3 linked regions of the Homo sapiens genome follow. The protein of the gene in region 1 purifies or fractionates together with the protein of each later gene. This does not show direct contact. Each region holds a gene or a part of one and is shown on either strand. Other genes may lie near its edges. The genes, in order: ARL6, AMPD2 and BBS4.

Evidence for each region.
Region 2: the proteins of ARL6 (region 1) and AMPD2 purify together in Homo sapiens (affinity purification with mass spectrometry; one large-scale study listed by BioGRID and IntAct). This does not show direct contact.
Region 3: the proteins of ARL6 (region 1) and BBS4 purify together in Homo sapiens (co-immunoprecipitation; one study listed by IntAct). This does not show direct contact.

The regions. Positions count from the first base shown.
Region 1 is NC_000003.12:97,798,723-97,801,864, reverse strand, and holds the end of ARL6 (ADP-ribosylation factor-like protein 6), read right to left. Parts: 3' UTR 636-3,142; downstream 1-635. UniProt on the Homo sapiens protein: Involved in membrane protein trafficking at the base of the ciliary organelle. Mediates recruitment onto plasma membrane of the BBSome complex which would constitute a coat complex required for sorting of specific membrane proteins to the primary cilia.
Region 2 is NC_000001.11:109,626,181-109,629,836, reverse strand, and holds part of AMPD2 (AMP deaminase 2), read right to left. Parts: coding exon 3,609-3,656; intron 3,519-3,608; coding exon 3,410-3,518; intron 3,112-3,409; coding exon 2,925-3,111; intron 2,663-2,924; coding exon 2,521-2,662; intron 2,409-2,520; coding exon 2,319-2,408; intron 2,064-2,318; coding exon 1,934-2,063; intron 1,755-1,933; coding exon 1,560-1,754; intron 1,474-1,559; coding exon 1,342-1,473; intron 1,195-1,341; coding exon 1,031-1,194; intron 729-1,030; coding exon 602-728; intron 511-601; coding exon 347-510; intron 42-346; coding exon 1-41. UniProt on the Homo sapiens protein: AMP deaminase plays a critical role in energy metabolism. Catalyzes the deamination of AMP to IMP and plays an important role in the purine nucleotide cycle.
Region 3 is NC_000015.10:72,710,142-72,713,797, forward strand, and holds part of BBS4 (BBSome complex member BBS4), read left to right. Parts: intron 1-2,102; coding exon 2,103-2,166; intron 2,167-3,656.

The sequences.
Region 1 (3,142 bases):
GGTGGAGGGATAGCTTTAGGAGATATACGTAATGTAAATGATGAGTTAATGGGTGCAGCACACCAACGTGGCGCATGTATACATATGTAACAAACCTGCACGTTGTGCACATGTACCCTAGAACTTAAAAGTATAATAATTTAAAAAAAGTAAAATAAACATTAAAGGCAGTACAAAAATGAGTTAGCAGTTTACTGACACTTGATCTATATAATAGAGATAATACCTCACAGGGTTCTTATGACAATTAAATGAATATATGTAAAGTGCTTACAAAGTATGGGCACATTGTAAAAGCTATGTTTATCATTACTACTATATTTCTAATCAAATTTTATTTTCAAAATATCTAGTATTCCTGGGTGACTTTTAGCATTACTTGGTGATTTGAAATTTGGAGACAGATTTTATCTTTCTTGGTTTATTCTAAATTGCCAGAAAAGCAGTTTAACATGGTATGCCGATGAAGCTTCTAAATCTGGCATTGAAATCAAGTGATTGGAAGAAAGAGCCATAAAGGTTCTGAGGCAGGCGAAGCTGAGCAGGAGCATCCATACGGAGAAAGATGAAAATGTAATAACTAAGTAACCTGAAACATTCAATTAAACACAATAACCATTTCTTAATCACTGTAGTATTTCTCTCTAGTCGCAGACGTACACAAACCTATTTATTTAGGTGACCTTGTAATACCAGTCATTTATTTTCATGAACAAAGGAAATAATCAGAAAGCAGAAAATAGGTACAAACTCAGTTACAATGCAATAGTATTTTAATGCACATGCACCAGAGTTATAAGCAAGATGAATTTGCCTTAAGTATTGCAACTGACTGAATGTTTGTGTTCTCCCAAAATTTCTATGTTGAAATTCTAACCCCCTATGTGATGACATGTGATGATATTAGGAGGTGGGGTCTTTGGGAGGAGCCATGTGAAGATGTAATGGGATTCATGCTCTTATCAAACAGACTCCAGAGAGTTCTCTTGTCCTCTTTTGGCCATGTGAGGATACAAGAAGATGGCAGTCTGCAACCAAGACGGCTCTCACCAGAACCCAACCATGCTGGTAATCTGATCTCAGACTTCCAGCTCCAGAGCTGTAAGAAATAAATTTCTGTCGTTTATAAGCCACCCAGTCTATGGTACTTTGTTATAGCAACCTGAAATGAATAAGACAAGTATTATCAAGAGTAACTGCACATATTTATGGAAATCACAACATGATATAAAAAAATTACAAAGAAAAAATATCTTAAGGAGACAATTTGTAACTTTTTCGCAGAGAGCTTAGAAATAAAAAACAAACATATAAAACCCAGCTCTTTTGTGATTTATAAAGCACAGGCTGAATAGGGCCATATACAAATATTTAAATATTTAACATACAAGAGGATAAGTTTCAAACATTTTTACAAGGTGTTATATTCAAATACAGAGCTTAATGAATTAAACTCTGTAACACACTGATGTCTAGACATGAAAGAAAACTTGCTTCAGGTTTAATAAAATACATTTTAATTGTATAATATGCTAAATACAAATGCAATAATCTCAGCTTATTCACACTTATATGACATCCTGTGACTACACTGTTGCCCAACTTCTACATAATCTTTACATGAAAATGTGGAGTAGGGATGGATGTTTATAGACTAAAAACTAGATTTTGGAGATCATGAAAACAAAGAAAAAGGGTACTTCTCCTTCTTCTAAATATTTGCATAGGTATGAGCTACTGTAGTTTGTGGAATACCAAATAATTTAATGTCAAAATAGTTTTAAGGACTTTTATCAAAGTCATTTGTATCCAGAGTTTAAAATTTGAGTAGTGTTAATAGCTTTAAAAGAAAAAAAAAGAAAACAAAAAAAGCAAAGAGTAGTCTCTAGTCTCTGACCTTCCCTCTACCATCCCTGTCCTGGTTGCTGTCCCAAGTAAGAGCCTTTTCTATCATTTTAATTGTTATTCTGGCAGATATATCTGTATTTCTAATATCTATCATACTCTTGAATCATCTGTCTTAAAACAGACTGCTTGGTACTGAATCCTAGTACCAGACTTACCAGCTTTTTGAACTTTGGCAAATTACATAACATTTTAACGCCTCAGTTTACTGATCTATAAAATGGAAATAATAAAACCTGCCACATAGGCTTATTGGGAGGATTAAATGTTGAAAATTCTGTATGTGTAATACCTGCTTATAATATAATGATCATATAGTAGTAACTATTATTAATTTTATTACTACCTTATGGTAAGTGAGTGAGGATTTGAATTCTCAATCAATTCTTTCTCCATCCTAAAATAGTTGTAGCATATCAGTTTTTTAAAAAATTACATTCATTGTTTCCATCCTTATGTCCTTCCTATATCTGCAGCAACTTTAGATTAATGAGATTTTCATTTTGTATCCTCTAAAACAATTTACAAGAGAGATGGTAAACTAGCTAAGATGCTGAGCCATTGGAATTTTCTGGGTAACTTTCAATTTGCCAAATGCCAAATCACTGCTATTTCTGGACTATAAGAAACTGGAATATAGAACTTTTATTGTAGCTTTATGTGCTTTTATTAAAATCTTTGTGAAACATGTACCACTACTGCAGTTACTATAACATCTTTATTACTCACTTACTTTTGCCTTCTATTTTCATCATTTTCAAAGCTAAGCATACTTGAGATGGTATATATTGTATATTACAGTTTTTCTTTATATGCAGTGTTTATCAGGATCAACAATATTGCTCTATATACTGTTGCTCAGTGATTAAAATGAAGGTTTCTATTTAGAGTTCACAATTATAAGTGTTCTCTAATTTGTGAGAACTAATAATTTGTGTGCCTGAGATATGTCTAAAATTCTAAAGAACATTTATGTAGCAGTTATGTTCATGAAAAAGTTAAAAGTCACAATTTATTTTAACAAAGTGCTATGGTAAATTGGAGGCATTTAAAAGTGAAAAACAAGATGTCAGTAATGATTACTGAACAGTCAAATATTAATTTACTTTATACCTCTTAATCTGAAGATGCAATATTTTCATTCAGCCAATGAAATAAAATTAGATACTATCCATGGAAAGGTTCTCAAATTATCCCTCATTAAATTTTAAGTTCTCTGAAGATAAGGATATGTCTT
Region 2 (3,656 bases), on another chromosome or scaffold:
CACAGTGTGGCCTCAGCACAAACGTGTGGAAGCCCCTCTGCCTGGGGGACATGAAGACAGTGTCAGCTCCTGAGCCTGGGATCACCTGGGCTCACCGGAGCCCCTGACCCCCACCCAGCACGCATATGTCCTCCAGCCAATAACTATGCAGGCCTGGGATAAGGGGGACAGGGGTAGATTACTGGCTGTGAGGGGTGACAGATGTAGCTCCAAGGGCAGAGAAAGAACCCATCCAGTCCAGGCAACAGGTGGGTCAGAGGTCTAGTGGCCCTGGCCCAAGGTGCCAAGAGTGAGGTTTGTTGGGCGAGAGATGGCATAGCAAGCAGACACAGGGTGGTGCAGGCACCTGCGCAGGTGGTTCAACATGGCCATGTTGGCAAAGGTGTAGTACAGGTAGTAGGCATAGGGTGGGTTGTCCTCCTCCACCCACGCCTCAGGCAGGGGGCTCTCCAGGTTGAAGACATGGTTTTCAGGCTTGGACTCATCATCCACGCTGTCAAAACCATCCACCTAATACAGAACCCTGGGGTCAGAACCAGAGCTGCAGCTGGATGCGAAGCCGGCTGCCCTCCCCATACCCAGCTCTGCGCTGCCTGCTCACGTGCTCTAAGAAGAGATGCAGTTCCGGGTGGCTGGCAGGGTGCACAGTGGCCTCGAACAGTGGCAGGAAGATGTTCTCCAGCATCTCCTGGAAGTTGGCCAGCTGGCCCTTGGTACGGTACACATCACTGCAGGTGAGACAACATGCAGGTATGTGCAAGTCAGGGCCAGTGGGAGGAAACCCAGCGGTCCAGCAAGGGTCAGAGCTTGGCCCAAGAGCGCAGGGGCGCATCTGAACCATATTGGGAAAGCAAGGATACCCAGGTGGGCCAGGCTGGACAGACCATGGATGGGACCAGGAAGCCCTTCCTTGCACTCAGAGGGGTTGGCAGGGACAAGGGAGGCTCAGCCATCCTAGGAGGGCAGGAGGCAGGCCCTGACCCCTTGAATATGACCCCGCAGGTTCCCCTCCCACTCCAGGGACACTCACAAGAGGCGGGGCACCTGCACCAGCCAGCGCACGTTGGGGGAGTGCACGCGGTGCATGACGGCCCAGCGCGCCAGCTTGTCCCACTCATCCCTCGAGCGCCCGTAAATGGAGAGCCGCAGCTCTGCATTCTGGTATTTGCTCTCCTCCAGGTCTGACATCACCTCCTAGACATGAGGTGAGCTGAGTCAGACATGAGGTGAGCTGAGTCAGAGCTCTTCAGGGGGTCATCTGCCTACCCTCCTTGAGTCTCACCCCCTAAAAGCCCCCAGATCCTCAGGCTCGAGGCTTGGCAGGGAAGGCTGCCTCCTTACCTTGATGATGTGAGCAAAGTACTTCCCAGATACCCTGTTGTCCGTCTTGATGAAGATCTCTCGGAGGACGGACTCCCCAATAGGGTTGTATTTGGCATTAAACTTGTCAAAGCGATGGAAAGTGTTCCTGTCCTGGGGGACATGGGAAGGCTCAGGTCACCCGTGACTCCTGGTCCCCTGACTGACTCAGTCCCACAGCCCACGCCACTGGCACAGACCGCATGCACATCCAGCGTGTCCACACTCAGGTCGTAGGCCGTGAGATTCATGCTCTCAAAGACCTCCCGCAGCGTCTGTTCACGGCCCTGCTCCACGTGCACGATCTCCTCCAGGTGCCGCTTCATTGCCCGCTTGATGAAGCGCAGCAGATGCTTCTGGTTCATGCAGGACGAGGCATGGATGTGGGTGTCCACCTGGAATGGAACAGGGCACTGCTGATCCACCAGAGGCCAGGAAGGTCTGGGGCCTGGGGCAGTGCAATGGGAAAGGACCCTCTGTACTGGATGCTGTGTGGGGGGCCTGGCCCTTGAAGGGGAGGCTGGGCAGAGGTGTGGGATGAGGACATGGAGACGGCCACGGGGTGAGGGCCCACCTTGCGGATGTTGTAGAAATCTCGGTGTGGCACTTTCTTCTGGGCGGCCAGCTCCTTCATCTCATTGAGTAGCACATGCATCTGGAACTTGGAGCTCAGGTACTGCAGCCGGCGGTAGCAGAATGACTTTCTGGGCATGAGGAGAACAAGGCAGGGACTTAGGCCCTGAAGGGAGGCACCTGGGGAGGGCTTGGGTAGCAGATCAGAGGGAGCAGGTGGGAGGGTAAGGATGGAGGCTGCCAAGAGGGAAGTAGACTGCGGGGAAGTCGAGGGCTCAGCAACTAGGAAGGGCAAGACACCAGGTGATGGGAGTCTGGGGCAGAACTGGGGCTGGAGAATCTGGGCTGGGAGGGGAGCTAAGTGTCTGGGATGGCAGGGGACTCACATGGGGCCATTGATAATCAGGGCCATCAGCACATTGACGTCAGCCACAAATTCCTGCAGGTCAGGGTATGGCAGCTCCACCTCTGAGCAACTGGCATGGAGGGGAGCTTGGGTGAGGAGAGCAAGCCGAGCCCTGTGGCCTCTCCCAAGCCAACGCAACCTCCCACGCTGCATCCCCCCAACATGCACCACACCCCTCTTACTGCTCGTCGGGTTCCCTGCGGGTGTAGACGTGCACCACACCCCGCACCATGCGCAGACCCAAGCCCAGGTCCCCAGGCATGGTGCTTGGCTCACAGTGCTCATACGGGTGCTGCTCCAGCGCAGGGGGGTGCACCGGGGCATCTGCAGGGGTGAGGAGGGTAAAGTCAGAGCAGGGCTCTTCCAAGCCACCCACTGCCCAACCCAAAGGCCCCACAGAGGGCAAGAGATGTTGAAGACCCAGTAGGTCAGACAGCTCCTGCCCAACCTCCACCCCTGTACCCCAAGAGGTTGGAATGAGCCTGGGTTGTAGGGAGAGGCAGGCAGGGCAGAGGTGCCCAGGCACCAGGCTGAGAAGCCCAGGAGGCTAGGGCACATGGCATGGGGCAGAGATGGGGAGTCCCACCAGCAGACACAGGGGTGTCGGGGCCCTGTTCATAGGTCCGGGTCTCCAGAGGCTTTTCAGCCAGCTGCTGCAGGTAGCGGCGGGTGGTGGGGCAGAAGCTCTGCAGGGACAGGGCCATGTACTTCTCCCGGATGAAGAGCGCCCGCACCACACTCTTGGCTGCATCCAGCAGGTCTGTGAACGGCACCTGGAGATGAGGATATGCGATCACTCTCCTCAGTCTTGGACTCAGAGACCTCCTCCCTAAGGCCTTATCTTAGAACCCAAACTATCCCCACCTCCCACAGGCCCTGACCCCCAGGAACACTCAGATCACCCTGGTCCAGCACATCAAGTGGCTCCTAGGCAGCCCCTCTGCCCCTCCGCCCCTCCAGCTGCTGGAAAGAGAAACGCCCTTTCCAGCCCCCACCCCCAGCTCTCCAGGCTGGGGGAACCCACTAAGACATAGGTGATGGCGACTCACCCAACATACACCCCATACTTACCCCACACTTCTCCTCCCCAGAGATGGTGACCCGCTGAAACTCCCGTTCCAGCACATCACGCTCCCGCAGGCTCCGGTCACCCTGCCCCTCACCCTGTTCCTTGTAGAGCCTGCAGGGGGTGCATTCAAGGGAGGGGTTTAGAGCCGGCAGAAGGGCAGGCTGCAGCTCCGCATCCCCTGTGCCCCTCTGCCCTCCTCACTGTAGGTCCGAGTCACTGTCCGTCTTCAGGAAATCTTGCTTGGCCCGA
Region 3 (3,656 bases), on another chromosome or scaffold:
TCAGCATATTAACTTTTTTATCTTTGGATAGATGAAAAATGGTATTTTGTCGAGTTTTTTTTTTTTTTTTTTTTTTTTTGAGATGGAGTCTCACTGTCACCTAGGCTGGAGTGCAGTGGCATGATCTTGGCTCATTGCAGCCTTTGTCTCCCAGGTTCAAGCAATTCTTCTGCCTCAGCCTCCCCAGTAGATGGGACTACAGATGAGTGTCACCATGCCCAGCTAATTTTTTGTATTTTTAGTAGAGATGGGGTTTCACCATATTGGCCAGGCTGGTCTCGAACTCCTGACCTTGTGATCTGCCCGCCTTGGCCTCCCAAAGTGCTGGGATTACAGGCGTGAGCCACCGTGCCCAGCCCTGAGTTTTATTTTTTAATTTCTCTCTTACTGCAAGGTTGATCATCATGTGTATATTTAAAAACCATTTGTATTTCCCTTTCTCTGTATCTTTGGTGACATACCATATGTGTTACAAACTTGCAGGCAGACAGTGGTAGTACTAACATGCAGAATGTATCCTTGGTGTCATCTTTTTTGGTATCCAGAGCTTTGTGACCCATCTAAGGTTTTTAATTTATACCCATGGCATTTATACCTATGGCAATGCACAGAACTAATTCATACTGGTATGACAAAGATTCATACCAGTTTTTTTTTTTCTTTTTTTAAGTGGAGTTTTGCTCTTATTGCCCAGGCTAGAGTGCAGTGGCGCAATCTCGGCTCACTGCAACCCCCGCTTTCCAGTTTCAAGCAATTCTCCTGCCTCAGCCTCCCAAGTCGCTGGGATTACAGGTGCCCGCCACCATGCCCAGCTAATTTTTTTTTTTTTTTTTGTATTTCTAGTAGAGGTGGAGTTTCACCATGTTGGTCAGGCTGGTCTCAAACTGCTGACCTCGTAATCCACCTGCCTCAGCCTCCCAAAGTGCTGGGATTACAGGCGTGAGCCACCGCACCCGGCCCATACCAGTTTTTTTTGACACCGCTGATCCGAAGGCAGATACCAGTATGAATCTTTTTTTTTTTGAGATGGAGTTTTGCTCTTGTCGCCAAGGGTGGAGTGCAATGGCGTGACCTCGGCTCACCACAACCTCCGCCTCCTGGGTTCAAGCGATTGTCCTGCCTCAGCCTCCTGAGTAGCTGGGATTACAGGCATGTGCCACCACGCCTGGCTAATTTTTTGTGTTTTTAGTAGAGATGGGGTTTTTCCATGTTGGTCAGGCTGGTCTCAAACTCCCGACCTCAGGTGATCTGCCCGCTTCGGCCACCCAAAGTGCTGGGATTACATGCGTGAGCCACCGCGCCTGGCCACCAGTATGAATCTTGAAAGGTTCTCTTTCTTTTTCATCTGTGATAATACTTGGAAATCTTATCACACTTTTCTTAGCTTGCCTAGTTAGATTTTAGACAGGGGTTGGCAAACTTTTTCTGTAATGGGCCAACAATATTTTAGGGTTTGTAGGCCACATACAGTCTCTACATCATATTTGTTATCTTATTTTTTATAACCCTTTAGAAATAAAAAAACCACTGTTAGCTTGAGAGCTGTACAAAAATATACAGGGCCTGTAAGCCCTGTAGTTTGCAAATCCCTGTTCTAGAAGAAGTAATCACAACAAGGGAGTTGAAATTTTAAGAAACTGAATGAACTAATACTTTACTAGGCATTATTAATACTCTAGGTTTTTTTACATATGATTCTTGTCCACGTCTGCTTTTTCATTACTATTTGTTTTCTTTTTTTTTTCAGACAGAGTCTCACTCTGTTGCCCAGGCTGGAGTGCAGTGGCGCTATCTTGGCTCACTGCAACCTCCGCCTCCTGGGTTCAAGCGATTCTCCTTCCTCAGCCTCCTGAGTAGCTGGGATTACAGACACGCACCACTACTGCCCGGCTAATTTTTGTATTTTTAGTAGAGATGGGGTTTCACCATATTGGTTAGGCTGATCTTGAACTCCTGACCTCATAATCTGCCTGCCTTGGTCTCCCAAAGTTTTGGGATTACAAGCATGAGCCACCGCACCTGGCCTGTCCATGTCCACTTTTTCTTAAAGACACCTGAAGAAACTTAACCACTGCTCAGAAGCATTTTTCTCCCTCTTTCAGGCTGTTATCAAAGAACAGCTTCAAGAGACTCAGGGATTGTGTGAATATGCTATCTATGTCCAAGGTAAGACACATACTTCTTGTCTTCTTGCTAGAGAAATACACTTTTCCTAGGTTCTTGAAAAAGATCAGGCAATTGAAGAAACAAGTTCAAGTACAGTCATGCACCACTTAACAATGGAGATATGTTCTAAGAAATGTGTTGTTAGGCAATTTTGTCATTGTGTGAACATTACATGGAGTGTACTTACACAAACATAGATGGATGATATAGTGTACTATACACATGATATAGTCTGTTGCTCCCAGGCTACAAACCTGTATGAGCAGGTGTTATACCGAATACTGTAGGCAGTTGTAAAACAGTGGTAAGTGTATCTAAACATAGAAAAGGTACTGTAAAAATATGGTATAAAAGATAAAAAATAGTATACCTGTATAGAGTACTTACCATGGATGGACTGGAAGTTGCTCTGGGTGAGTTAGTGGTGAGTGAATGTGAAGGTCTAGGACATTATTGTATACTAATGTAGACTTTATGTTGTATACTAATGTAGACTTTATAAACACTGTACACTTAGCCTACACTAAATTTATTTAAAAATATTTTTTCTACAATGATAAATTAACTTTAGCTTACTATAACTTTTTACTTTATAAACTTTAAAACTTTTTGGCTCTTTTGGGGTAATACTTAAAACACACAACAACATTGTACATTTGTACAAAAATAGTTTCTTTAGGTCCTTATTCTATAAGCTTTTTTCTTTTTCTTTCTTTTTTTTTTTTGGTAGAGAGACAGAGTCTCACTTTGTTGCCCAGGCTGGTCTTGAACTCCTGGGCTCAAGCAGTTCTCCTGCCTCAGCCTCTCAAAGTGCTGGGATTATAGGCATGAGCTACGACACCTGGCCCTTTATGCTATTCTTAAAACTTTTTATTTTTTTACTTTTAAACTTTTTTGTTAAAAACTACGATACACACACTACTACAGTGGTGGTACTAACATGTGGAATGTGTCCTTGCTGTCTTTTTTGGCATTCAGAGCTTTGTGACCCATCTAAGGTCTTTGTGACACACACACACACACACACACACACACACACACACGCACACGCACGCACGCACTGGTCTAGGCCTACACTGAGTCAAGATTATAAATATCACTGTCTTCCACCTCCTTATGGAAGGTCTTCAGTGGCAATAACATACATGGAGCTGTCATCTCCTATAACAATAGGAATACCTTCTGGAATACCTCCTGAAGGATCTGCCTGAGGCAGTTATTCTTTTTTTTAGTAAGTGGAAGGAGTACACTCTAAAATAAAGATTAAAATGTATAGCGTAGTAAATACATAAACCAGTAATGTAGTCATTTATTATCAAGTATTAAGTTCTATATATATGTAATTGTATATGCTGTACTTCTATGTGACTGGCAGCACAGTAGGTTTGTTTATACCAGCATCACTACAGATAGGTAAGTAATGCATTGCACTGTTTTGATTGCTATGACGTCACTGGGCAATAGGAATTTTTCCTCTTCATTATAATCTT